Linked DNA regions of Homo sapiens. The protein of the gene in region 3 interacts with the protein of the main gene of each other region in a pairwise test. Each region holds a gene or a part of one and is shown on either strand. Other genes may lie near its edges. The genes, in order: SOCS6, TBX22, TARDBP and TASOR2.

What was found.
Region 1: the proteins of TARDBP (region 3) and SOCS6 interact in binary tests that used the Homo sapiens proteins (3 or more experiments, as listed by UniProt).
Region 2: the proteins of TARDBP (region 3) and TBX22 interact in binary tests that used the Homo sapiens proteins (3 or more experiments, as listed by UniProt).
Region 4: the proteins of TARDBP (region 3) and TASOR2 interact in binary tests that used the Homo sapiens proteins (3 or more experiments, as listed by UniProt).

The regions. Positions count from the first base shown.
Region 1 is NC_000018.10:70,320,020-70,327,047, reverse strand, and holds part of SOCS6 (suppressor of cytokine signaling 6), read right to left. Parts: intron 5,446-7,028; exon of another isoform or gene 3,400-5,445; intron 2,506-3,399; 5' UTR 2,380-2,505; coding exon 772-2,379; 3' UTR 1-771. UniProt on the Homo sapiens protein: SOCS family proteins form part of a classical negative feedback system that regulates cytokine signal transduction.
Region 2 is NC_000023.11:80,010,728-80,017,752, reverse strand, and holds the start of TBX22 (T-box transcription factor TBX22), read right to left. Parts: upstream 3,001-7,025; 5' UTR 2,866-3,000; intron 1-2,865. UniProt on the Homo sapiens protein: Probable transcriptional regulator involved in developmental processes. This is major determinant crucial to palatogenesis.
Region 3 is NC_000001.11:11,015,626-11,022,653, reverse strand, and holds part of TARDBP (TAR DNA-binding protein 43), read right to left. Parts: intron 5,811-7,028; coding exon 5,647-5,810; intron 3,922-5,646; coding exon 3,781-3,921; intron 2,226-3,780; coding exon 2,055-2,225; intron 531-2,054; coding exon 1-530. UniProt on the Homo sapiens protein: RNA-binding protein that is involved in various steps of RNA biogenesis and processing.
Region 4 is NC_000010.11:5,736,826-5,743,853, reverse strand, and holds part of TASOR2 (protein TASOR 2), read right to left. Parts: intron 4,237-7,028; coding exon 3,357-4,236; intron 1,758-3,356; coding exon 1,328-1,757; intron 1-1,327.

The DNA.
Region 1 (7,028 bases), on a different chromosome or scaffold from region 3:
GAGTTTAATTACAGAAAAGGCAACAATTTCTAAATTGGTGGTATACATTTCTTTACAATTTTTTAATGTAAGGCCATTTATTAAAATAGACAAACTAGAAGATGAAAACGAAGGCAACAGAAAAATTCAACTTTTCACAACCAAAAGAATTAGCACAACCTTAGAAATAATTTAGAAAAAAGTGTTGTTAAAAGATATGTTGCAGATCTCCGTTCCATTACCCAAGATTATGTCAATTCACGATTCTAAATAAATCTTTTTAAAGTAAGAGATTAAAAACTCATCTTCAGTGTATATGTAAATTCTGTGTTTTATCACACAGGTATGTTTATTCAACACTGTCTTTTGAAAATGGACCATTTAAAAAGACATAGCAATTTCCATTCTGTTAAGTTTCATTCAACTTTACTTAGGGTTGAATACACATGAAATGTGCTTTTAATGCATAAAAATCACAGTGGATAGCAGCAAAGGACTGGGCGGGGGGGGCATTGAGGAGAATTTGATAATTCACATTGTGATTATTCTGCACATTGATGAAACATAATTCACACCTCTAAAACCTCAAGACTTCCCTTTTTTAAAGAACCAAAATAAACCCAAGACACCTTGCTGACACTTCCCCACCCCTAAACAAACTGATGACTCTTTTACACATAAAACTGAAATAGTTATGGCAGCAAAAGATTTTGATGGCAATGAAAGTTTGTAAACTGTATTTCAATCTCTTGTTCTTATTCCCAAAGTGCAAGATGCAGGGTTCTCAATCTTTCAGTAGTGCTTCTCCTGTAAATAATCCTTCATTTTGTTTGGCAAAGGCAGTTTCTGAATTAAGTCTATTCTGGTATACTGACGTATAACAAAACGACACAGGTACTGCAACGAGCGCACCTGCATGAACCGGGACACTGGGTTGGTCAGTCTGACGGGGTAAGTTGCAGATCCAGGCAGCCGAGACCTTGAATAACAAAAAGCTCCATTTTCAGAGTCCCTGATTGAATGCTCAATTAGATCAACTATGGACGTATGTCCTTCCACATCTGGCTGTTCATAAAAGCTAAACCTACCATTTGAGTGCTCAATTCTAGTGTGAAGTGTTTTACCATGGGAGCGAAAGCTCAAGCTTAAAAGGTAACGGTCGTCAGAACTGTCCCGAACAAGAAAAGAACCATCTGGCACGTTTGCTAGCTTCCCTTCTGCCTCCCAACGTGTGATTGGTCCCCAGTACCATCCTTGCTTTGCAAGTTTTTTCAGCTCCTCTGTAAGGCTTGTCACAACCATGGGACCACTACTTTGCACTGAGTCATAAACTCTTGCAACCCCAGGAGCAGAGTTCGGATCAAAATTCAAATGACAGCGCATACTTTCAGCCACGTGGGCTTCTGTGCCAGTGAGTCCACTGAAGTTCCTTTGGATTTGATTATTCTGCATTGGAGGTAGCAATGGTGAGAGTGGAGGGACATCATCGTGACCCGCTCTCGGGCTCTGCAACATGACTCCCGTGGTGCCAATCAACAAGCCATTCACGGACTGATCCACGAAGATCTCTGGGGCGACAACTAGGTCCTGGTCTACCTGACTCTCATCCTCGGGGAAAGCGCGCCCTCCCACTTGAGGAGGAACCGCAGAGACTTCCATGGGAGAAGAGCTGTCCAGACAATAGCTCCGTGATCCTTCCAAAGGATACATCCCCTCATCTAAAGGCACAGTATACTGAATGTAGTCCTGAGGCATAAGTCCAATAACGACAGGCACATGTTCATCCAGGTGAAGATGCAGGTCTCCATTATGAGAAGCCGAGCTCTTCAGTGAATTGGCTTGCTCCTGGCACGTGGTCTCAGACTGGAGGTCGTGGAAATCCTTCCGGACGCCATTCAGGGCTGGACTCGGGCTGGAAGAGTGAACCAAGGCCTTGACTCTCACCTCCATCTTGATGCAGGTCTCCTCGGAGTTTGTGGGCCGCAGAGGCCACGGCGCGGGACTGTAGTGATGGCTGCGGAGCGACGTGGACCTTATCGGCCTCTGAGCTCTCACGTCTTTAAAGACTATGGGTGCTGAGGAGGAGGAGAAGGTGTCCTCGTCGGCAGAGCTCCCAGAGGGTGTGCCCGCCTTGCCTTTTGACTTCTGTTTTGCAGAAAGCCGCCTTTTTAGCGTACCCATCAGGCTCTCGCTTTTTGATCTGTTTTTTCCGCCTTTTTCATCTTCACCGTTGATATCGCAGCTGGCCATATCTTTACCATAGCAGCTACCAAATAAGGAATCATCTTTTCCAAAGTCACTGGCTAGCGATGGTTGTTGTACTACCATGAAATCAGTTTCTTCTTTACTTTTATTCAAGTTAAAAGATTTCCGTAAGGTTTTAAGACTAATTTTCTTCATTATGACTAGTTACCTAATCCAAGGGATCAATATTTCTATCTGGAATATTATCCCCAAACATCTGGAGAGGCTGCAAGGCTGCATCTATGTATTTTTCCTGCTTCATTTAACCTTTGGAGCCATTTTCTAAAAAATAAAAATATAAAAAGAGTCATATTAAAAAATATTTCCACAAAAGTTTTGTTTTAGTCAGTTTTAATCCTTTAACTTCTGAACGAGAACACCCCAGTCTTTTCTTAATGTCAGCTCTGTTAGGACCGGGCTTTCTTTCTATTGCACCCAGCAGAGCAGATCACTGCCTACTACACAATGAGCATTTGGCAAGTATTTGATGATGTTTACTTTATTATTATTATTATTATTATTTTGAGATGAGTCTCACTCTTTCGCCCAGGCTGGAGTGCAGTGGCGTGATCTCGGCTCACTGCAAGCTCTGCCTCCTGGGTTCACGCCATTCTCCTGCCTCAGCCTCCCAAGTAGCTGGGACTACAGACGCCCACCACCACACTCAGCTAAGTTTTTTGTATTTTAATAGAGACGGGGTTTCATCGTGTTAGCCAGGATGGTCTCGATCTCTTGACCTTATGATCCGCCCGCCTCGGCCTCCCAAAGTGCTGGGATTACAGGCTGAGCTACCATGCCCCGCCCGATGATGTTTATAAAGAACAAGCCTGCATCTACCTTTTGTTCTTTTGGCACCTTGCTTTTTGGTATAAACTCTAACGTGTGGGCCAGTGTCCACATCCTTCCCAGCTGGACTCTAGCTAGACCTGTGCACTCCTTCAGCACTGACTCCGACTGCTCCTCCGCTGCCTGCCATGTCCCAGCCTGTGTCCTGGCACGACAGTAAAGGCGTTCCATAGAACTGCAATAACAAGCCTAGTCAACTCAACAACTGATGCATATTTTAAATACTTAAGCTTGTGTCAAAATAAACAAAAAGAATTTCATTATCTGTAATAAACTATCTAGAGATGTTCCTCTATACTCGAGAATTCCTTGAGAACAAGAATCATTTACCTTCAAGTTCCCAATGCACAGAGGAGGAAGAAGCTCAATGCGCGCAGGTTGAAAAGCTTCATCTCTGAAGTACACCCATAAAAACCCATGTGTCTAGTTTTGATCTATTTGGAAGATTATGAAACATATTTCCAGAATTATTATTGCTTACTCTTCTTTTTTTGCAATTTCCCATGGCAAATTTTTACTTCTATATCCAGAAATATATTTTCTAAACTTTTTTTGTACATTGTTCTACACTGAAATGACAGGATTTCAATTCTGTAAAGACTTTCTGAAAGTCATTTCACAGCAAAAAATCTTGGTTCCATAAACCACGTTAAGTGATCCTAACACTACTTTACAAAGGCCCTGTGTTTAAACTGTGTAGAATGTTTTCTTTCCTCCAACGTCATGTTCTGCCTTCTCTGCATATGACTTGACAAGGTGATTCGCTTGACTTGAGCGAAATGCTAATAAAGCCCAGAACAAGATTCTGACCTCCCAAATCAGCAGTTTAGCGCCACTCAGTTTCTTGGCACAAGACTATGGCTCTAGCTTTGATCCCATTCATGAATTCACTCTGCCTTTACTAAGCCCCTACTCGGCCTCTGCTGAGTCAGCTTGGCTCAGCCCTGTGTGGCAATACACAGATTGATGAATAACTGATGGTCACCTAATCCAGTAGGAGAGACAGATGTATGAACAGATAAACTGTAGTATCAACCCTTCAGTAATATAATGGTACACAAGGTGGGAACTGACAGGAGAGAGAGAACCTGACAATTGTCCCCTTTTAGTTACAGATAGGATTCGGGTGGTGTGCAGATGGAATCATTCTTACTAAAAACCACTCAGATTAGACAACCTATCAGGGGATCAGTACTATCATGTCCCCAAAAGGAAGAAGCAATTTTTAAAAGTCTACTGTCATGTACTATGTTTCTGAATAAGTTGTAAAAAATAAAAAACTTAAAATATTTGAAGCACCAGTTACTTTTAAATAATAAATGAAGTTGTATATTAGGTGAACTCAGTGTCTTAGTAGCATGTCTTCTACCCAAGCATAATGAACTATTATAACTGCCAGAATCAGTAACTGATTAACCCTACTAAATGTGAGATTCAAATAGTTGTGCTTCCCACTATCACACCCATACCCCAAAACACGAGAGACTAGCAACCACGGTAAAAGTACTTGGCAATTACCTGCTTGAAAATTATTCCTTTTTCAACTACCAATCCATATTAGTAAGCTATTAATCAATACTAATATTAAAGAAACAAAATTCAATCCTAGACATTACAAACTATAAAAGTTCTATTAGGCCATATGGTCTTTTATCTCTTCCCTTCATATTCTAGGCAAAGATTACTCTAAAATTTTTAAGAGTATCTGTTTTTCTGTTTGCACATCCAAAAATATATGCCATCTTTTTATAGGATTACCATCTGTCTCGTGCCTAAGTAAATGTTCTGAATTAGTTTTACTGCTTTTCTAATTGTAAAATTTTAAGTTTATACATATACTTGAAAATGTATATAAAGTTTCAAGGGAAAAAGCTTTAGACATAAACTTTATCCATATGGGTAAAGGATAACTTCTTCAAATAATTTCAACCTTTTCTTAAATGACTTGAGGTAGTCATGTCTGTCAGTCATCATAACACATAATGAAAAAATTAAAAAGATCAAACAACTACTTAACCTTCAATAAACAAAACAGCTTTATTATCCCCATTTTATAAAATGAGGAAACTGGTTATCAGAGAGACTGGAATTTGCCCAACAAAGTTAAACAATTTGCTACTAGCAACAGCAGATCCAGAATCTGAACCTGGCTGTTTATTTGCAAAGCTCACATTCTTCCCCTATGCCAACCTGTCCTACCTGTCATTCTACTGCTTACATCAGTGGTTCTCAAACATTCTGGTCTCAGAACCCCTTTATTCTCTTAAAAATTATTGGAAGACAGGAAGAAGCATTGTTTATGTGGGTTGCATCTCTTGAAATGTACCCTACTAGAAAATAAAACCGAGAGGCGGGGCATGATGGCTCACTTCTGTAATCCCAGCACTTTGGGAGGCCGAGGCGGATCACCTGAGGTCAGGAGTTGGAGACCAGCCTGGCCAACGTGGTGAAACCCCATCTCTACTAAAAATACAAAAAAAAAAAAAAAAAAATAGCCAGGCATGGTGGCGTGTGCCTGTAATCCCAGCTACTCAGGAGGCTGAGGCAGAAGAATTGCTTGAGACTGGGAGGCAGAGGTTGCAGTGAGCCAAGATTGCGCCACTGCACTCCAGCCTGGGCAACAAGAGCGAAAACTCTGTCAAAAAAAAAAAAAAAAAAAAAAAAAACTGAGAAAATTTGTTATTTATTTATTTATTGAAGACACAGAATCAGAGTCTCGCTGTGTTGGCCAGGCTAGAGTGCAGTGGTATGATCTCGGCTCACTGCAGCCTCAACCTCCTGGGTTCAAGAGATCCTCCCACCTCAGCCTCCTGAGCAGTTGGTACTATAGGCACGCACCACCACGCCTGGCTAATTTTGTCTACTTTTTGTAGAGATGAGGTCTATGTTGCCCGGGCTGGTCTTGAACTCCTGGCCTCAAGCAATCCTCCTACCTCAGCTTCCCAAAGTGCTGGGATTACAGGTATGAGCCACTATGCCCAGCCTAATTTTATATTTATTTTAAAATGACAATATACTCATTACATGTTAACATAAATAACATTTTCATGAATGATAATAAAAATCAGTGAAAGTGGTACCACATGACATTACTGTAAATCTCTTCTGCCTGACTAAAGGAAGACAGCTAGACTCTCATATCTACTTCTGCACTGAATCTGTTACAGTACAGTAGCCCTCTCTTATCTGCAAGGGATACATCCCAGGATCCCCTGTGGATTCCTGAAACCACATATAGTACAGAACCCTATATCAAGTATACTTTGCTTTTTTCCTATACACACATACCTATGATAAAGTTTAATTTTTAAGTTAGGTACAGTAAGAGATTAATAACTATAACTAATAATAAAATTAAACAATTATAGCAAAATATTGTAATAAAAGCTATGAGAATGTGGACTCTCTCTCTCGCAAAATATCTTACTGTACTGCACTTAGCTGTCTTCAGATGACTATCGACTGTGGTAATTGAAACTGTGCATAGGGGACTACCTGTAAGAAGAAAATTCAGCCTCCTCCAGATACATAGTTGGAAAAAGGAACAATATATTTTATTTAATAACCTTTTCATATAACTATGGATATTTTTCTTTGATACTATATCAAAACTCAATGAATAATAGTTTCTTAATGATAAATTGCCCTGTAAAATCTAAAACCATAACACAAAATTTTTTTACTCTATAACATTCAAACCCATTGGTCATGCCTATAATCCCAGCACTCTGGGAAGCTGAGGTGGGTGGAACACTTGAGGCCAGGAGTTCGAGACCAGCCTGGCCAACATGGTGAAACCCCGTCTCTACTAAAAATATCAACATTAGCCAGGCATTATGGCTCACACCTATAATCCCAGCTACTCTGGAGGCTGAAGGAGAATCACTTGAGCCCAGGAAGCAGAGACTGCAGTGAGCTGAGATCACACCACTGCACTCCAGCCTGGGCAACAAGCAAGA
Region 2 (7,025 bases), on a different chromosome or scaffold from region 3:
ATAGAATTTTTAAAAATTTCCTAGGAAATTTGCCACCAGAATTATGGGGACAATTTTGTACGTGGCTAATTTTGAGCAGGATAAATGAATAAACGAAAAAGAAAAAACCTTTTTGAAAGTCCAAATGTAATTCTACCCTATGGTGATTCTAGTAATTGCCAGAAGAGGCATTGTATGGTCACCTTTCAGCTGTCTTTGACTTCCTGGAGCAGTGAAAATAATAAATAATTATAAATGCATCCTGTCTCTTTTAGTCCTCAAACACTCTCCATTAAAACATTGAGCTTAAGGCCAGGTATATGGGCTCACACTTGTAATCTCAGTGCTTTGGGAGGCTGAGGGAAAAGGATAGCTTGAGTCCAGGAGTTCGAGATCATCCTGGGCAACATAGCAAGATCCTGTCTCTACAAAACCTAATGAACAAAATTAAAGAAAACACACACACACACACACACACACACACACACACACAAAAACAACACCAAACTAGTGTCAAACCTATTCCTTTTTATGTTACCTCTCTGGTGCTCCATTGGCACTTGCACAGTCATATATTAACTGAAGGCTCAATCAGGACTGCTGGACATAATATTTTTTCATGGGTAGAGTTTGTGCTATGTGAATTTTTAGGTTAGGTCATTTTAACTTGGGTATTATGCCTTATACATTTCTTTTACCTACTCCACCCCCATCTTTCCTCTTTCCTTTTCTTTGTTTTTTTTCATGCTTTTTTTTTTTTTTTTTTTTGAGACAGAATCTCCCTCTGTTGCCCAGGCTGGAGTGCAATGGCACAATCTCAGCTCACTGCAACCTCTGCCCCCCAGCTTCAGGTGATTCTCCTGCCTCAGCCTCCTGAGTAGCTGGGATTACAGGCGTGTTCAACCACGCCCAACTAATTTTTGTATTTTTAGTAGAGACGGGGTTTCACCATGTTGGCCAGGCTGGTCTTGAACTCCTGACCTCAGGTGATCTGCCTGCCTCAGCCTCCCAAAGTGCTGGGATTACAGGCTTGAGCCACCGCACCTGGCATCATGCTGCCTTTTTAAAAATGAGGATGAGAGTCAGAGTTACCTCCAAATATGCTATATGCATCAGCCTCAAAGAAAGTGGGCTAGGATTTGAAAAATGACTGCAGGTGCCAGTTTGATATTTTAAAATAAATAATTCAGACATATAGCAAAATATCACTGGCTCAGATCACTTGAACGGAGATATGCCAAGTTAATTGCATCAATGAATTATTGAAAAAAAATACTGTTTATGAGGAATTATTTTATCTTCCTAAAACTAGAAAAATGCTTGCTTTACACCCTCTTCCCCTACACACGCTTTCTCACCAAATGACTCCACTCAGTTCTCAGATCAGTGAGTCATCATCTGGCTCTGCCTAATTTGGGCAGCCATGAGCCCAACAGAAGCAGATCCTTCTGTTAAGAAAGAAATCATCCTGAACTCCATTGGGCCCACCAAATCTCGTGCTAATCTTTTCACTATTTACTTACTCCTGGATATTTACAATATATTTTCCTCTTCTTAACTTGGCACCCTACCTCATCATTCCTAGGACATGCGAATAAGGTACTAAAGGCTTCTTTCCATATTCTCATAATTATCTGTATTTAATCAGGGCTTTTCAATACCTAACAACCACAGATGTACTGACACTCAAAAATATTTGGTAGTAGGCTGAGGGATTTTCCCTAAGTCTATCAAAACACCAAATATAGGCAAACACCTATACTGCCTGTGCTTGAAGCCAATCTATGCCTTCTTTCATACACTGTCTTCCTTCCCAGGGTCCCCACATTAATATTACTAGAGAAAAAACTGCTCCTTCATGAAGTAAATATTTGTAGTTAGTAAACCCTGATCAATGCTCCGAGGGGCAAAAGGGAAGGTTTTAATAATTAAGAAATAAAGACAAATTTTAAAAAATACAAAAGAGAAATCACAGAAAACAATAAGGTCTTCATGGAGATAAGTCTGCTGAACTGAAACAAAGCAACCATATCACCACCCTACAGCAAACTCCTTGACATGCCTTTTATGGCCAGGTGCTTTCTGTAGTCCCCTTCTCTAGTTTGAAGGCATGTGTGTGTGTGTGGTATGTGTGCTTGTGTGTTTGTGTTACAATGCGGTGTATGAGCTCAAGCTCTGGTAAGAAAAATCAGGAATAAGTAAAATAAAACAATCTTTTTTGGCACACTTTGATGTTCCCTCTCTCACCCCAATGCCCATGCTTTGGGACTTCAGACCTCCTCCTGAAATCAAATGAGTGCAAAGAAGATCAAATAATCCTTCTGCCTCTGTGGATCTAGAGCTCCTTGGGGAAGAGCCTCGGTAGAAAGTACCACTACTTAGAGCCCTTGGCTAGGGCCACTTTTCAGTGTTAGACACCTGCCACTCAGCTCAGTGACTTCCACGTTGGCTTCAGTCCTCACCTTCCAGGAGGCACTCCCGTCCCTTCCCCTTGCTCCCTAGCTCCCTAAACAAGATCTGTGAGCACTAATGCATAGTATCCTGGGCCTGGGAGCCTTCTGGCTGCATTGCTGCCTAGGAGAGGGACTATTGCTGGCTTCTTTGGGTATTACAGCATACTCTTAACAGACTGGACAAGTCTAGCCTTCATTAATTTTAAAGAGCACTAATATTCTACTTCCAGTCCCCCGAGAAGTAGTGATTGCAAGATCTCTGTCACAAAACCCCCAGTTAATGAAAGATGAAACTGACAGTTATCAGTTGGACTTTCCTAATGTTAGGGACTTGGTTAGTGATAGTTAACAGGAGAGGAAGAGGCTGAGGAGAATCCCTGTACTGATGTCCCACTAAAACCCATAACATGGTCAGTAAGGCAGAGGTATTTACCTGGAAGGCAAGAAGCAGTGTGTTGCTGTGTCAAGAGGCCAGGCCAGCCCAGTGGTTCTGAAGTCAAGTCTCAGTCAGAGCTCATTCACTCTGCAAATGCCTGCAGCAGCTCTTCTCAAGAGCCCAGAGAAGAGTGGCCTAGAGCCAGAGCACAAGAGAACGTGGTGTTCTGGCCCTCAGCTGTGGGAGAGGCACTTGCTACTTCCGGGGTTGGACTCCAGCAACTTCTCCCACAGAAGACCTGCTGTTACTCAAGGTTGGCCATGAAGTCACAATGACAGTCTGTGATTTCAGCTTTCAGAGCCTCAAGGCTGCAGGCACCCTGCATCCTACCTCAGCCTCCCGGTTGCAACCATACCTGGCTGCATCCTGCTCTGAGCTACAGGCTAATGCACTTGGGAAAAAATGCCTTTGAAGCAGGAGTGGATTGACTTTACAAGTCTAGTCAGCTCATTTCCATGCCCAGCAGGAGCACTTGCAGTTGGAAAACACTTTTCAATCCTCAATCAACAACAGCAGCTCAGAAGCTCCACTCAAGGGGTTCAGCTCTGGAGTCATCCACTAAGAGACCCATTCAGCCTCAGGCAGTGATTCCCAGGCAGTGTAGAGACTCTCAGTGGCCAGGATCCCCCTCTCAGTCTGCAAGCGCCACATAAACAAAACTTTACACCTCCTAAAGGAAAGATCCAACACACACACATATACACACACACACACACACAATTTAATGCACAGCGAATCCCAGAAATGTCTTGGCTGACACATTTTTCTGCTGCAAAATAGAACATGTTTGATTTTTACTTGTTGGTTTATTTCTCCAGGGCAGCTCAGAGAGAATCGAAAAGGGCTTAAGGCCCTAAGTCAGAAGAATTTACTAGCAATAAGTGATCCATAGGTACTTGAAAAATCAATGCTCATTTTATCCTCTAGTGAAGAGGCTCTCATAGAAGAGAAGACAGATTCTGGATTAGTGCGGTTTAATTGGACGAATTCTATAGCTTTTAAATTTATTTTCTCCATTGCAGAGAGCACCATACCTTTCAAGTAATGCAGGAAACCCCAGCTACCCCGCATTGGGCTACCACACCGCAGTGCCATGGATAACTAGGAAGGACCCAGGGGATTTCCCAAATAAAACCCCTGAAGCAGATAATGCCTGTTATAACCCTGCCTGAAAAACCAGAGGCCAAGGAGGACCACGCATTTCTTATCAATACTGAATGCCAAATAGTGACGGTGATATTTCTGATGGGTTTATAAATGCATTCCGGTGTTCCTGAGATTTGCAGCTCACAGTCAACCACACAAAAACTCAAGGGATTATTTTTTAATTTTTAAATTTATTTTACTATCTCATGTGAAAGTTTTAAATGTCTGAAGAGGACTACAGTCTCTCTAAAGTATTTTTCCTGGCAAATATTTTCCCTTCTTTCAAGAAAAGTAAAATAGTGATTGTATTTTATTTTATTTTAGACTTTCCCCTTTACTTTATCTTGATTTTCAAGTTAAAAAGTGTCACAGTAATAAGTTTCAGCCATTTTTGAAGATAACTCAGAGACAGGATTTTCCAAGAATCCTTCTACACCCACTGAAAGAAGAATGTGTTTGTGTCTTCGCGCTCCTGTGTGTTTGTTTAGGGAGAGAAGGTTGCAAATAAGAACAGCATGTGAGCCCATCCATAGAACTATGTGCATTTTGAAACACGACAAATCTGTTTCTGTTCCTTGTTTAATGTCGGGAAATGTGTTTCCTGTCGTAATTGGGGCTGTTCACTTTTGGTGATATTTAAAACGGGCCCAACAGAGACAAGTTGATGTTTGGTTAACCACGAAGGAAATGGCTTTTGATCAAGCAGGCAATTACTAACCAAATCTGGTAACTTCACAAGCAAAACAAAGGAATTTGTTAACTAAGTTTTCTTCTACAGTAATGCGCAAGGCAATTATTTATGAATGAAAGAGAGTTTTCCGTGCCGGTGAGCAATAGACAGTGAGGAGTGAGCCACCAGGACTAGACTCTCATCACAAAACATCATTTCCAAACTCAGGGCAGGAGTGCCCTTTTTATGTCGCTGGGTGTGTATATGCGGGAAGAAGGCTAAGTGCAAGTGGCAGCATAATCCTGAGGTGGCAAGGTCTCCGCCTGCTGTAGCAGAAGAGGCTTGTGGCTACGTCATAAATAATCCTATCCAGGCAACTCAGGAAACAGTGTCTTTCTTCCCATCTCCACTCCCCTCTGTGAGCTCTGCAGTGCTCCGTTTCAGGGCCATGACGGCCGGGGGAAACTTCACTTCTGGCCTTTGGGGAGAGGGCTTTTGAGAGACCAGGCTCTGACGCTCCGCAGAATCAGGTAGTTAGCCAGGGACAAGTGTTGCCAAAAACTCAATTCAACATGATTACATGTGAAGGGCTAGATGTATACTGCCTGGGTAGACGCAGCAGTGCGGTCTGCTGGGGGCAAATTTTGGCATTCCAAAGAGGCTCATCTTGTCTCATGACCTTAGCAGGTGCACTTAATTCCTGGTGGCTCCTACAAAGTCGTACCCGAGGAAGCAGCCCAATAGAAGAGAACAAGGGCTTGGCTTCTCAAGATTCAGGAGACTTTGACAGAGTTCTGGGGCGATACCACTCACAGGTGTGAGGCCTCCAACAATAACCACTACCTCTTTCTTTCTTTCTTTCTTTCTTTCTTTCTTTCTTTCTTTCTTTCTTTCTTTCTTTCTTTCTTTCTCTTCTTTCTCTTTCTTCCTTCTTTCTTTCTTTTCTTTCATTCTTTCTGTCTTTCTCTTTCTTTTTTTAAGCTTGCTATCTTGCTACATGTTAACTCTTAATCCTCATGTTGCTACATGTTAACTCTTAAACCTCACAGCAGCAACAATAACAAATCAGGTAGGTAACTTCATTCTTCCATTATCCGCCTCAAGTAATCGAGATTTAAGAGAGCACATTAGTGGTGGAGCTAGCTGCCAATCTCCAGTGCTGTGGTGACTCTACAAGACCACTGCTCAGGGATCAGCAAGTAAGGAATTTTAAACCGTCTGCCATCATTCCAATAGCCTGCTCCTGCCCCAAGTCCCTGCGGTGATTATCAGAGGGCCCAGGGGCAAAAACCCGACTGCAGCTTCTTGCAGCCAGCATAAGCTATCCTATTTTGCATGTTCCTTTGTCTCCTTGGTGCTACTCTTGGAACAAACCAGAACTTCCCAGCAGTTTGCGGAGCGGGCGCCTTCTGGGCAGAGCCAGATACCTAGCTTTCTTCCAGCCAAGCGTACCTCACAGGACCTTTGCTGCTGTAGAGCTTGAATCTTGACTTAGTAATTTAGGTCGCGAATGGCTGCTCTGGGCGCCAAGATGTGCTCAAAAGTTTGGGGTGAGGTTGCTGCACTCATCAGGGACTCCAAAAGCACTTTCCTGTGATAGTAAAGCTCTGTCTGGGTCAAACAGGCCGTTTTACAAACACTTTAGAAAGTCAAAGCACAAGTGCCATTTTCCGGTGCTCCTCTGAATCCCTATTACCCAGTTATATCATCCGACCTGTGATTCAGCTTCCCAGTATCTTCCTGGACCAGCATGACCTTTGAAAGACCATGATCCAGGGCGCCATCGATTTATTAAAAACACTATTTTGTGAGAAGCCAAGAAGTTTCTGATATTATTCCCCTTGCCGGAATGTAACAAAATGCCACTCATATTTTTAAATTGGGAGAGTTTAGGCGGTTTATTTTTTACCATCCATAGAAAAAAAATATTGGACATGATTAATGGATAATTGTTGGCTAGAATTTCAGACAGCATTCTCTCTCTTACTTAGCATAATTGCTTAACTGTGTCCAGATTTGCCAGTTACCTCTATTTAAAAAAATACAAGTGGCCAGCTCCAGGGGCAATTAGCACATCATCACCTAGGGAGCCCAATGAGATAACTTTGGATATTAACTTGCAAACAATTATTAATTTAATGAATTTACACATATATGTTAGCCTAAGAATAATCTATTGAACCAGTTACAATAATTATACTTTGATGAAATTTAGGCTTTATTCTCTAGAAAATCTTAAATACAACCCTGTATTCAAATTTTCAATTACAAATTTTAACACAATGATGCAAGTGTGTATTTCACATTGGTGAACTTATTTTAATATTTTAAAGCCATGTCT
Region 3 (7,028 bases):
TACATTCCCCAGCCAGAAGACTTAGAATCCATGCTTGAGCCAAAGCCTCCATTAAAACCACTGCCCGACCCTGCATTGGATGCTGATCCCCAACCAATTGCTGCACCAGAATTAGAGCCACTATAAGAGTTATTTCCAGAACCGAAGGCCTGGTTTGGCTCCCTCTGCATGTTGCCTTGGTTTTGGTTATTACCCGATGGGCCTGACTGGTTCTGCTGGCTGGCTAACATGCCCATCATACCCCAACTGCTCTGTAGTGCTGCCTGGGCGGCAGCCATCATGGCTGGATTAATGCTGAACGCACCAAAGTTCATCCCACCACCCATATTACTACCTTGATTGTTTCCCAAACCAGCTCCACCCCCTCTGCTATTACCAAATCCACCCTGATTCCCAAAGCCACCTGGATTACCACCAAATCTTCCACTTCTTTCTAACTGTCTATTGCTATTGTGCTTAGGTTCGGCATTGGATATATGAACGCTGATTCCTTTAATGATCAAGTCCTCTCCACAAAGAGACTGCGCAATCTATAAGAAATAAGGGATGTAAACAAAGAAGATTAAACCACTGATTCATATATTTAAAGTAGCAACAAAACTTAGATTACAAGCATTAATTTATCTAAAGCCAGAGGAAAAATAAGCAATGAACACTCATTTCATTTAAACCCCCAATACAGCTTTTAGTTTTATTAACAGCAGCAGTGATATTTCAGTCGATTTTCAAAAGACATAGGCTGGGCATGGTGGCTCATGCCTGTAATCCTAGCGCTTTGGGAGGCCAAGGTGGGAGGACTGTGTGAGGCCAATAGTTCAAGACTAGCCTGGCAGCCTAGACAACACAGGGAGACCCCACCTCTATCAAAAAAAACCACAAAAAAGCCACATTAGCTGGGCGTAGTGGCATGCATCTGTCCTAGCTACTTGGGAGGCTGAAGCTGGAGGATCCTCCCCCTGGAGGCTGAGCCCAGGAGTTCTAGGGTGTAGTGAGCTATGATTACACCACTGTGTTCCACCAGCCTGGGCAACAGAGTGAGACCCTGTCTCAAAATAATAATTTAAAAAATGGGCCGGGAGCAGGAGCAGTGGCTCACGCCTGTAATCCCAGCACTTTGGGAGGCTGAGGGGGGTGGATCACCTGAGGTCAGGAGTTCAAGACCAGCCAGATCAAAACAGTGAAACCCCGTTATCTACTAAAGATACAAAAAACTGGCCAGGCGTGGTGGCTCATGCCTGTAATCCCAGCACTTTGGGAGGCTGAGATGGGCAGATCACCTGAGGTCAGGAGTTCGAGACCAGCCTGGCCAACATGGTGAAACCCTGTCTCTACTAAAAGCACAAAAAAATCAGCCAGGCGTGGTGGCAGGCACCTGTAATCCCAGCTACTCAGGAGGCTGAGCCAAGACAATCGCTTGAACCCATGAGGTGGAGGATGCAGCGAGCCAAGATCGCGCCATCACACTCCAGCCCGGGCAACAAGAGCAAAACTCTGTCTCAAAAAAAAAAAAAAAGTATATAACATTCCCAAATGCCACATACTGAAAATTATCTAAAGGCATATTTACTTTTAGATTTCTTAAAATGTTGTATTTGTGATATCAGATACAGGTATCACAAACATCTAGGCCCATACACCCTACGTCTTACAAGGTCAGAAAACTTAGCTAAGAATAGCAATTAGCTGCATGGGCAATGTTCAAGAGAAATTACCTAATTACCTGGGACATATTTTTTTTTTTGAGACAGAGTCTCACTCTGTCACTGGGCTGGAATGCAGTGGTGTGATCTCAGTTCACTGCCACCTCCGCCTCCTGGGTTCAAGCGATTCCCCTGCCTCAGGCTCCAGAGTAGCTGGGACCACAGGCGTGCACCACCACACCGAGCTATTTTTTTTTTTTTTTGTATTTTAATAGAGACGGGGTTTCACCATGTTGGCCAGGATGGTCTTGATCTCCTGACCTCGTGATCCACCCGCCTCGGCCTCCAAAGTGCTGGGATTGTAAGCATGAGCCACCACGCCCGGCCGGGACATATCGTTAAGGAGAAAAATACCTGATCATCTGCAAATGTAACAAAGGCAAAGGCCCTGAATGGCTTGGGGATGAAGACATCCATCACATCCCCGTACTGAGAGAAGAACTCCCGCAGCTCATCCTCAGTCATGTCCTCTGTACAGCGCCCCACAAACACTTTTCTGCTTCTCAAAGGCTCATCTTGGCTTTGCTGATCAAATCAAAAGGAAGAAAAAAACTCAGAAATATGTTATGAACAATGAAAAAAACATTAAGGTAAGGGATATAACAAAATCATTCGCCTTGGATAGCAGTGAACCATTAAAAAGTAGACGTACCCTTAATTTTTTCCATCAGCATTTCTTTTTCTTGTAAGGCTTCAGTGAAGAGTAACGTTTTAAGTTACAAAAGTACACAGTCATGCATCACATAATGATGGATATAAATACATCATGAGCCATTACACAATTTCATCATCGTGGCCAGGTGTGGTGGCTGACACCTGTAATCCCAGCACTTTGAGAGGCCGAGGCGGGTGGATCACTTGAGGTCAGGAGTTCAAACCAGCCTGGTCAACATGGTGAAACCCCACCTCTACTAATACAAAAATCAGCCGGGTGTGGTGGCAGGCACCTGTAATCCCAGCATCTTGGGAGGCTGAGGTAGGAGAATCACTTGAACCCGGAAGAGGAGGTTGCAGTGAGCCAAGATTGCACCATTGCACTCCAGCCTGAGCAATAAGAGTGAAACTCCATCTCAAAAAAAAAAAAAAAGGGCCAGGTGCGGTGGCTCACACCTGTAATCCCAGCACTTTGGGAGCCCGAGATGGGCGGATCATGAAGTCAGGAGATCAAGACCATCCTGGCTAACACGGTGAAACCCCATCTCTACTAAAAATACAAAAAATTAGCCAGGCGTGTTGGTGGGCACCTGTAGTCCCAGCTACTCGGCAGGCTGAGGCAGGAGAACGACGTGAACCCGGGAGGCAGAGCTTGCAGTGAGCTGAGATTGCACCACTGCACTCCAGCCCGGATGACAGAGTGAGACTCTCTCTCTCAAAAAAAAAAAGTCGTTGTGCAAACATCATATAAACCCAGATAGCATAGCCTACCCCACATCTAGGCTAGATGGTATAGCCTATTGCTCCCAGGCCACAAACTTTCAAGTTACTGTACTCAACACTGTAGGCGACTATAACATGATGGTAAGTATTTGTGTATCTAAACATAGAAAGGGTACAGTAAAAACAGTGTTATAATCCTATGGGACCACTGCTGTACACGAGGTCTGCTGCTGACTGATCAACTTTGCCATGTGATACATGACTGTGTTTGGATTTGAGAAAATTAATAAATAAGCAATCTCTTGGCAAAGATGATGATGTTCCAAATAAGCCAATGTTATTTGTTTGCTTGGAAAAAGTTAGGTCTTTATAACAATTAATGTATGTATTCTGATTCTCTTTATGTTTTAACATATAACTATGTAAGAAACTATTAACTTGACAAATAACCTTTTCTCTTTTCCATCCATAGCGAAAAGGAAGAACAAAATGAACAAAGGTTTAGTTTGGAGAAGTAATAAACTAAATATTTCAAACAAGCATAAAATATTCAGCATGCACTAAGGGCCAAAGACTTCAACAAGACAAAAGGATTTCATGAACACACCCTGCCGCTATCTTTTCTAAGTGTGTTTAACATTTTATCTTACAATCCTCTAAGGAAGTTTGTTGGCAAAAATTCCCAAAGCACAGACGCAAGTACCTTAGAATTAGGAAGTTTGCAGTCACACCATCGTCCATCTATCATATGTCGCTGTGACATTACTTTCACTTGTGTTTCATATTCCGTAAAACGAACAAAGCCAAACCCCTTTGAATGACCAGTCTTAAGATCTTTCTTGACCTAGAAAGGATGATACAAGTTTACTCTAAAAGTGCACATACTCACACACTCCATTCCCAAATCATAGTTCCTTAGAAAACAATTTGAATGGTTTCAACTGGATGCAGTGGCTTAAAACTTAAACCAAGTTAGTCTTAACAGTAAAAACAAGGAGGTTAATATTGAATCCATACTGTGTTAACAACAGAGCAAAACTCACTTATACAACAGAAATGTTTTTGAGTTTTTTAAAAAAGAGAGATGGGGCCAGGCGCGGTGGCTCACACCTGTATTCCCAGTGCTTTGGGATGCTGAGGAGGGTGGATCGCTTGAGCACAGGAGTTCAGGACCAGCCTGGGCAACACAGCAAAACCCTGTCTCTACAAAAAATACAAAGATTAGCCAGGTGTAGTGGCATGCACCTGTAGTCCCAGCTACTTGGGAGGCTGAGGCACAAGAATAGCTTGAACCCAGGAGGTGGAGGTTGCAGCGAGCCTACATTGCACCACTGCACTCTAGAGCCTGACTGACAGAGCCAGACCCTGTCTCCAAAAAGAAAAGAAAAAAAGAGAGGCCAGGCACAGTAGCTCACGCCTGTAATCCCAGCACTTTGGGAGGCGGAGGCGGGCAGATCATGAGGTCAGGAGATCGAGACCATCCTGCCTAACACGGTGAAACCCCATCTCTACTAAAAATACAAAAAATTAGCCAGGCGTGGTGGCAGGCACCTGTAGTCCCAGCTACTTGGGAGGCTGAGGCAGGAGAATGGCATGAACCCGGGAAGCGGAGCTTGCAGTGAGCCGAGATCATGCCACTGCACTCCAGCCTGGGTGACAGAGCAAGACTCCGTCTCAAAAAAAAAAGAAAAAAGAGAAACTGAGTCTGGATATGTTCGCCAAGGTGGCCTTGAACTCCTGGCCTCAAGCAACCCTCCCACCTCAGCCTCCCAAAATGCTGGGATTACAGGCATGAGCCACCACAACAGGATTTTAACAGAATGTCTTAGAATGAATTCAAAGATAAACTAAATTTAATGTTTACAAATTTTAAATGAAATGGAAAAACCTCCCATTAGTTTAATATATAAAGAAAAGCTATTGTCACCTACTTCCCTTAAGCCTTCATGCAACAGTAGGATTTTACAATATCAAAGGCAATAACATAGGGTACAACATATATGTATAAATATAACAAATATTGGAAGTATCATCTGTGTAACAGAAAGGACAGTGCCATTAAAATAACAAGAATGTGGCCGGGCGCGGTGGCTCACACCTGTAATCCCAGCACTTTGGGAGGCCAAGGCAGGTGGATCACTTGAGGTCAGGAGTTCAAGAACAGCCTGGCCAACGGGTGAAACCCTGTCTCTACTAAAAATACAAAATTAGCCAGGCATGATGGCGGGCACCTGTAATCCCAGATACAGGAGGCCGAGACAGGAGAAATCACTTAAACCCGGGAGGTGGAGGTTGCAGTGAGCCAAGATCGTGCCACTGCACTCCAGCCTGGGCAGCAAAGTGAGACTTGGTCTCCAAAAAAAAAAAAAAAAAAGAAAGGTAACAAGATTGTGGCTGGGCATGGTGGCTCAGCACATTGGGGTCGAGGCAGGAGGACAGTATGGGCCCAGGAGTTTGACGCCAGAACCTAGGGAACATAGTGATACCCCATCTCTATTTATACCAATAAATAAATGCTAGATACTCATTCACTGGTAAAGAAAAACTGTTTGATGCAATCGAAGTTTACCTGCACCATAAGAACTTCTCCAAAGGTACTAAAATACTCTTTCAGGTCCTGTTCGGTTGTTTTCCATGGGAGACCCAACACTATTAAATCGGATGTTTTCTGGACTGCTCTTTTCACTTTCACTGCTGATGAAGCATCTGTCTCATCCATTTTTCTTTTGTTATCTAAATAAAACGAGCAGAAACCTTTTAGAAATCTTCACTTAGCACTTCTTTAAAAACACTACCTCCTACATCTAGAAATGAGAAGCAAAAAGAAGACTCTAAGAAGAATAAGACACTGAAAACTTGGCAAGAAGTGATGTTTGCTCTAGAGGACAGAATAAAGGCTTAAGTTTAGTGTCTGAGGTGCTTTTCTGGTGCAAATTCAGTGATTTCCAAGTTTGTTTTTTGTAGCATTTCCGGATTACAATCTCTCCCTCTCAAAAGGTTTATCAAAACAAAAATAATTCTACTTCACTTTGACTTTAAATATCAGCAACTTGTATATCCTGATGAAGATTTAACTTTTATCTTTCCTAAACATTCAACAACAAATACACAACTTTTGTAATAAAACAGAAAACCAGGTACAGTGGTGTGTATGCCTGTAAGTTCCAGCAACTCAGGAGGCTGAGGAGGAAGGACGACTTGAGTCCAGGAGTTTGAGGCTGCAGTGTGCCTATGAATAGCCACTGCAATATGCCTGGGCAACAGAGCGAGAGCCTCCATCTCTAATTTCAAAAAAGAAAAAGAAACCAAAAGTTTGGCTTACTTAAAAAAACATAACTGGCTGGGCGCGGTGGCTCACACTTGTAATCCCAGCACTTTGGGAGTCTGAGGCAGGTGGATCACAAGGTCAGGAGTTCAAGACCAGCCTGGCCAAGATGGTGAAACGCCGTCTATACTAAAAATAAAGAAAAAATTAGCCGGGCGTGGTGGCAGGTGCCTGTAATCCCAGCTACTTGGGAGGCTGAGGCAGGAGAATCGCTTGAACCCAAGAGGCGGAGGTTGCAGTGAGCCAAGATCGTGCCACTGCACTCCAGCCTGGGCGACAAGGGCGAGACTTCGTCTAAAAAATAAATAAACAAATAAAAATAAATAAATAAAAATACAAAAATTAGCCAGGCGTGGTGGCAGGCACCTGTAATCCCAGCTACTCATGAGGCTGAGGCAGAGAATTGCTTGAACCTGGGAGGCGGAGGTTGCAGTGAGCCAAGATCGTGCCACTGCACTCCAGCCTGGGCGACAGAGTGAGACTGTCTCAAAAAACAAACAAACAAACAACAACAAAAAAACCCCCCAAATAACCTCAACCTTAGGTTATTTAGAAGAGAAGGGGAGATAATTTTTTTTTTTTGAGACGGAGTCTCATTCTGTCACCTAGGCTGGAGTGCAGTGGCG
Region 4 (7,028 bases), on a different chromosome or scaffold from region 3:
AGCCTACGTAAGTACATACTAAGGAGATTGTTAGGAATCACTGATTTGAACAGTCAGGCTTGCCAAAATCATTGCTAAAATTAGTACTGATGATAGTTAATTACATATTACCACGACAAATGGTATTTTATAAGAAACTAGCATGTATATATGTATTAATTTAAATCTCCCTGACTAGACTATATTTTCTTATTCTAAGGTGGTGATTCTTAACTGGATTTTATGTAATTCTTTGAGAATAGGATGGAACTGCTGAACCCCATCTTTAGGGGAAAAAAAAAGCACATACATAGTTAACATTTAGGTTTTCTAGACTGGAATCTTGGCTTGACAATTTTCTATGTGACTTTAGGCAATTTCTTTACTTCTCTATGCTTTAGTCTCGTCATCTATGTAATGGGGAGATTAATAGTCTTTAACTTATTTGAGAATGAACTGAGTTAATATGAGTGAAGGGCTTAGAACTCTTACTTTCTGGCACACAGTGACCCAGAAATCTTTAATTCTCATGATGATGACAATCACTTGAAGATATTCACGGGTTCTATGAGGCTCACCCAAGGACCTCCAAGTCCCCGGTGACCCCGGGTATAGGAACACTGTCTACTCTTTCTTAAGACAGGAATCAGAGATGCTGCCCAAACCCAAGCAATATTATTCTAGAATAAATTTGGGCGGAAAACTTTAAAAGGTAGGTAATTTTGTCAATTCATTTGCTTAGAATTTTGTTAACAACTTTTAGATTTGCTCCAGGTAAAATTTGGATTATCTGGCCTGGTTGAATGTCAGTTGAGAACAAGGAACAAAACAAAGTATATTTTCCATATTTACAAATAGTTATTTGCAATGGGTCTTCTTTCACAGGTCTGGCATTTTACTATTCCAGCATCTGTCTTCAAAAATAATTTTAATACAATTAATTTTAGTTTACTTTAAGGTTTATCAAAGTATATCTAAGATTTATTATTGCTATATTTGATCCTTAAACAATATTCTACATAAGACTTGATAGGTATTAAGTCACCTCTTTTAAAAATTAGGCAAAGAAGCAATTTGCCCCAAATTATGCTGGGCTCCCAGATCATGTGGACCCTGTGACATTTTTCTACTCTGGTTTTTTTCAATCGGGATGGCAGGTAAGCTCTACCTGCAGACAATTCAAGGACACTTCATGAAAACTAGGTTTTTGGTGTAATAGTTCTTTACATACCTTGAGAATTCACTGTCCTAAAATTTAAAAATGCCTTGTTTTGAATGTGATTTTACATATAAACATTTTTTTCTTCAAAAATAATGCCAACATTTAACGGTATTCAGCTTTACATACCTCATTATTGTAAGAACAGATGAAATTCTGGTCTTCTTGGGTGTCTGGATCACACTCTCTTGCAAAAGTTTTTTTCTGTTCATTTTGTACACAGAGTTCCAAGCCTTGGGTAAGTGGTGTTTTAATGAAAGGAAGCAAGCAGTTAGGATCACGGAAGGATACTTCAGCAGCATGAGCCCTGGAAATTTCGTTAGTCTCCAACAGAGAGTCTGCAGAACATTTTTCCAAACCAAGGGACTCCTCAATTTCACGGAGCTCACAAGATTCTAACGTGCTATTTATAGACACATATTTTGCTGGGTTGCTGTGTTCTACAACCTTTCGGGAAGATCGTATGATTTTGTTCTGATTGCTGTAAAACAGAGCTACCCACATATGAAGTAAAAGCTTCACTTCTTCCACATTATCAGGCAAATCAGTATTCCAGGGCCTAAGAGTTTACAGAAAGAACACATGAAAATCATTGAAAATGGTTATTTTAGTTGATTACCTTATCATAAGCAAGTGCCTCCAATATTCCTTAGTTTTTGTTTTTATTTTTAAAATTTACAGATATGAAACATGAATGAGTAAATATGTAGTTGACTTAACAAATAATTATCCATCTAACCCACTCATTTTACAGAGACGGGAACTGAGAATCAGAACATGTAATTGCCTTCTTTCAAATCACAAAACCTGTATGGCAGAACCATGATCTGAACATGGGTAGCACGTGTCTTTTACACCATACAAATTCACTCTGGACACAGAATACTTATTATAGAAATGGTTTCGCCAATACCCAAATCCTCATCACCATGCTTTTGCTAAGTCTGGCTGATTCATTTATTTTCCATTTTTGTGTCTCTCTTCTAATAATTGAGAAAGTCTGAAGATAAAATATCTCTCTGGGCAATTCAACAGAACTATACTATTTTCAGACTACAGTTCTGCAAAATATCCTGAAACAGTAAGGGGAAATAGAAAACATTTCTGGCCACCTGGCAGGCAAAAGGATGGCAGATCGCTGGAGTACCATAAGTCAGGGGGGCTGCAGAGTTGGGCAATAGCTAAACAGGAAGTTCTAAGGAAATGACCCTTATGAGTATATATGAACAGGTGTATAGAAGAAAGCCTGACAGCTGTAGAGTCCATATAGTCAGATGTGAAACAGTTCATTAATAGGGAGCTGAATGTCAATTCATATAGCTAATGAATGCTTGCTAACAGTGATGGTTACCATTTATTACTACTACTGGCCAGTCACTGTGCATCTCAATATATGTAACCTCAGGACACAGCTACATAATTAAATGTTGGCCACAGACTGTCATCCACCATTGATATCACCTGAAAATTTGTTAGAAATGCAGAATGTCAGGCCTCTCCCAAGGAGAATGCATCAAAATCTGCAGTTCAGTGAAATCTCTAGATGAGCAGCACACACAATTAAGAAGCACTGTCCAGAAGCAAGAAACTTGCCCAGGATCACAGGAGGTAAGAAAGGGAAAGAACCCGGGTTCAAATCTAGGTTAGTCTACACTCCAAAGCCTGTGCTGTTCACCACTCTGTTATTACTGACTTGATTCCTTCTTAAGGGAGATCTATAGAACAATCTTATGTGAAACTGCTTACTCCTATCAATCTGACCAATTTACCAAGCTACAGTGATTTTTAAAATGTTTCTTCTGGAATTCAGTCTGTAAAGCATTATTTCTAAATCTCACACTATTTTACATTAAGATCTCATCTAAAAATTGAAATTCAAAAGCCACAAGGGCTTACGAGGGAGCATTGCAAAATGGAAAGCTATTCATTAGGCTAAAATTATCTTTAAAAACTTCTCCACATGAGCACAGGGGGAAAACCAGCCTGTTACTCTTAATTGCCAGGAAACATGTTTGCTTGATGTTATTATCAAATTACTGGTTTTAAACACAACACTTCTTTCTCCTTCTCCAGAGTTTGGCATAAGTTTCCCCATCTCACTACATTCATCTCAACAGAAAAGTTTCATCCATTTTCACTAAGTTTCACTCATACTCACCCATGTAATGCTCTTACTACAGTTTTCTCCAGTGGGTTGTTGGTATATTTGCTGTCTAAACTGAATGCATATTCTGTTTCACATTTGAAAGTGATCTTAACGGAGTCATCACAGCTAAGCACTATACGAGAGCAAGAAGATTTTTTCACACGGGCAGACGGTGGTCGATCCTTGGGCTTCACCACGGGGTCGTCAGGAGGCTTTTGCTGAAGCAAAAGGCCGGGCTGATGCCGAAATGGCATGACTTTCCCCACTGGGGTTGCTGCTTCAGGGCTTTTTGTCCCATTCCTGGGAAACAGAGGGCTTAGTATCTCTCTCTCCTGTAGATGTTTCTTTGAATGTTCTGTAAGGAGCAGGGCATATGAATGTTCCACAGAAACAGAAGAGCTTTGGCTTGCATCTGAAGATTCTAGCATTTCCTCAGTAAGTGCTGACTGGGCTTTAGCAGGGGCCTGACTACAAGGAACCAAGCTTTCTTCATCTTGGCTAACTGTTAAGTCTGATCCAGAATTACTCTTCCTATCAGAAGATGGGTTAGGTAGTAATTCACCTTTTTGAGTTTTAACTCCTCTATGATATTCATGGTCAGATGTACCTCGCAAAGAATTTTCTTTAGAGAGCAAAACATCATTTTGTGGCAATTCAGAGGAACAGTGAAGATTTCTAGCCTCAGATACTGGTGTGGAAGAAGTAGCAGAGCTTAATGCTAGATCGGCTAACATATTTAGGGCCTGGGAGTCATAGTTGACGATGGAGTTTTCAGGAAGATCATTGTGAGCCGCTGTGGTATTTTCTGGTTGAACACTATTTATGCTAATCCCATCTTCTTGACAACCTCTTGAAATTTCTGATTGAAGCTTTGAAGCAGTTTCTCCTTTGACTTCAGTATAAAAGAAAAAAAAAAGAGAGATGTTTGCTTGTCATAGAATTAACTCTCTGCCATATTACTATGATGGTTAATTCAACATGTCTGAGAAAAACTTATGTAACATATATTGCATATTAAAATTTTCTATTAGATTAAGGTCTCTTCCAACCCTCAGATAAAACTTATGTTATACATATTGCATATTAAAATTTTCTATTGGATTAAGGTCTCTTTCAACCCTCAGATTATAATGTGTTAAACCAGAGGGACAAGTCTTAAGGAATGTGTACATTAATTTAGAAAGAAATTATCCTTCAAAAACATATGAACTGATCTACACAGAAGACATACAGCTCAGCTCAAAAAATGTACAAACAAAAAAACCCAAAAAAGATGAGAGTCCTGCCCTTGGGAGCTTACAATCTAATAAGGACAGGAATGTAGAAGTTTCAAGTGTGTATGAGTTTGCTAACATACTTTCTCAGGAACCATTTCCCTGAACAAGCGATTTATTAGAGAAACTACCTAAGTTCAAATGATTTTAACTATATTGATCTTTAATTACATGATGTGATAGAAATAAAAAATTAGAAAAGTCCTAAGAGTATTCAGAATCATCAATTAATTCCATTACCTTTTAAAATTTTACTTTCATTACCAAAAACATTGACCTTTTACATTATCCAAGAAAGAGCAAATCTACTGACAATGTTCCCTTTTACAGATAATCAAATCTATCCATATGCCCTTAATCAGAACATTTACATTTGCCAGTGGTTTCCCTTGGTATTTTCAACGTATTCATTATTCCTTCCTAAATGCTGTTATTATGAAGGATAAACTTCACAACTCTGCTAGGCAATGATTCCCTGCTGCAGGTAGACAGATGACCAGAAAAGCCAACTATGTTCCTCTTTATCATAGTAGCAGGTCCAAAATGAATTAACAACCTGCCAGCCAAGGCCAATGAGTAACACATTTAAAGAGAAGACAGCTCCAGCCTATGATGTCATCAATTAGAACGACAAGGGCATGCACATACATGGGGAAAGGGTTAAACTGATCAACGACTGCCCAGTTTTTATTTAAAACAGCAAACTCAAAGGGGACAGGTGGATGAAAAGGACCCAAAGCAGATAATTGTCTTGTTAGTCCCACAGGTATACTGGAAACATAAAATTAATTTTGTGATCTGATGCTAATTTCATTCTTTGTTAATATTATGGCCTCCATCTACTTATCCCTTACACAAAATATTACTTACCAGTAAGGCCTAATATAAAAGATACTGTATTAAAATAAAGAAAAATGGTAGTTTAACATATTATAGTCTCACATAAATCACCCAGTTATTAACGTGTTACAGGTTCCCAATTAAAAAAACACCACCCATAATTTCTATTTAAGACATACATAAGACAATGCCAAAGGAACTACATTAAAAAAAAGTTCAGTGAATAAAAAGGACAGAAAATCATGTTTCATTAACAAAAGGACTGTCTGACTTCAAAATTATCATTTGATTCTAATTTAAATCAGTAATTTGCAAACTGAGGTCAATGTGGCTATGTTTCATCTGCCTTCTTAAACGTTGATATTTTAAGTATAAGAAGTAAAATGATTAACATAGGTGCTTAAGAAAAAAATTCAGAGATTTAAATGTAGTCATTCAAAAATGTTAACTTGGAATGTGGCTGCACAATACCTACAGACATTTGCAATACAAATCAGCCTGTATTTGAACACACATTTTGAAACTTTAAATTTTCTGGGCTCACTTTTCTGCCAGTATGCAATTATATACCTCCTCGCATTAATCAATTTGTCAATAAACATCTGAAGCCAATTCAGTACAAAGAATGCAAATGACACTGCTAGGAACACAAGATGTTACCTATTCTCATGTTTACAAATTGGAAAGATTGGACCAAGACATGTCAGATGAATTGAAAACAGTATGAATTAAATTATAGAATGTTCTCAAATATCCCAAAGAAGTGAGAGATTAGTTACAGTCACAACATGAGAAAACGCCTCCCTGTGGGGATAAATCTAGCTGCAGGCCCCTGAAGGGCAGAGGTTGCCTGGGGGAGGCACAGAGGGCCGCAGGGGAAGGAGCACGGTGGCAACAGCAGAGGCACAACGCAGAGAGGGGAGGTACAGCCACACCATAAACTCCCGAGAGGGACAAGCAGAAGAGCTCAAATCTGGTATGGAAGCCAAAACTGCAGCATATGGGTTTTTGAATGACATGATGAGCTTTTAAAAAAATCTTCAGTCATAAAACAATCTGAAAAAACTTAAAGAATCTCAGGGTATGCTTAAGTTGAAAAAAAAAACAAAAAAACTAAAAAAAACAAACCTGGCTGGGCGTGGTGGCTCACACCTGTAATCCCAGCACTTTGGGAGGCCGAGGCAGGCAGAGCATGAGGTCAAGAGGTCAAGAAGTTGAGACTATCCTGGCCAAAATGGTTAAACCCCATCTCTACTAAAAATACAAAAATTAGCCAGGCGTGGTGGCATGCACCTGTAGTCCTAGCTACTCGGGAGACTGAGGCAGGAAAACTGCTTGAACCTGGGAGGCAGAGGTTGCAGTGAGCCGAGATCGTGCTACTGCACTCCAGCCTGGTGACAGAGTGAGATTCTATCTCAAAACAAAACAAAACAAAACAACAATCCAATTTCTTTCTCTGAATTCTCACTCTCTGTGAGATAGTAACATCTAGTAATAGATGAGGGAGAAAGTAGAATCAGGAAAACCAGACAGAAAACTCATAGAAAGATAGGAGAGAATGAAGTCTCTC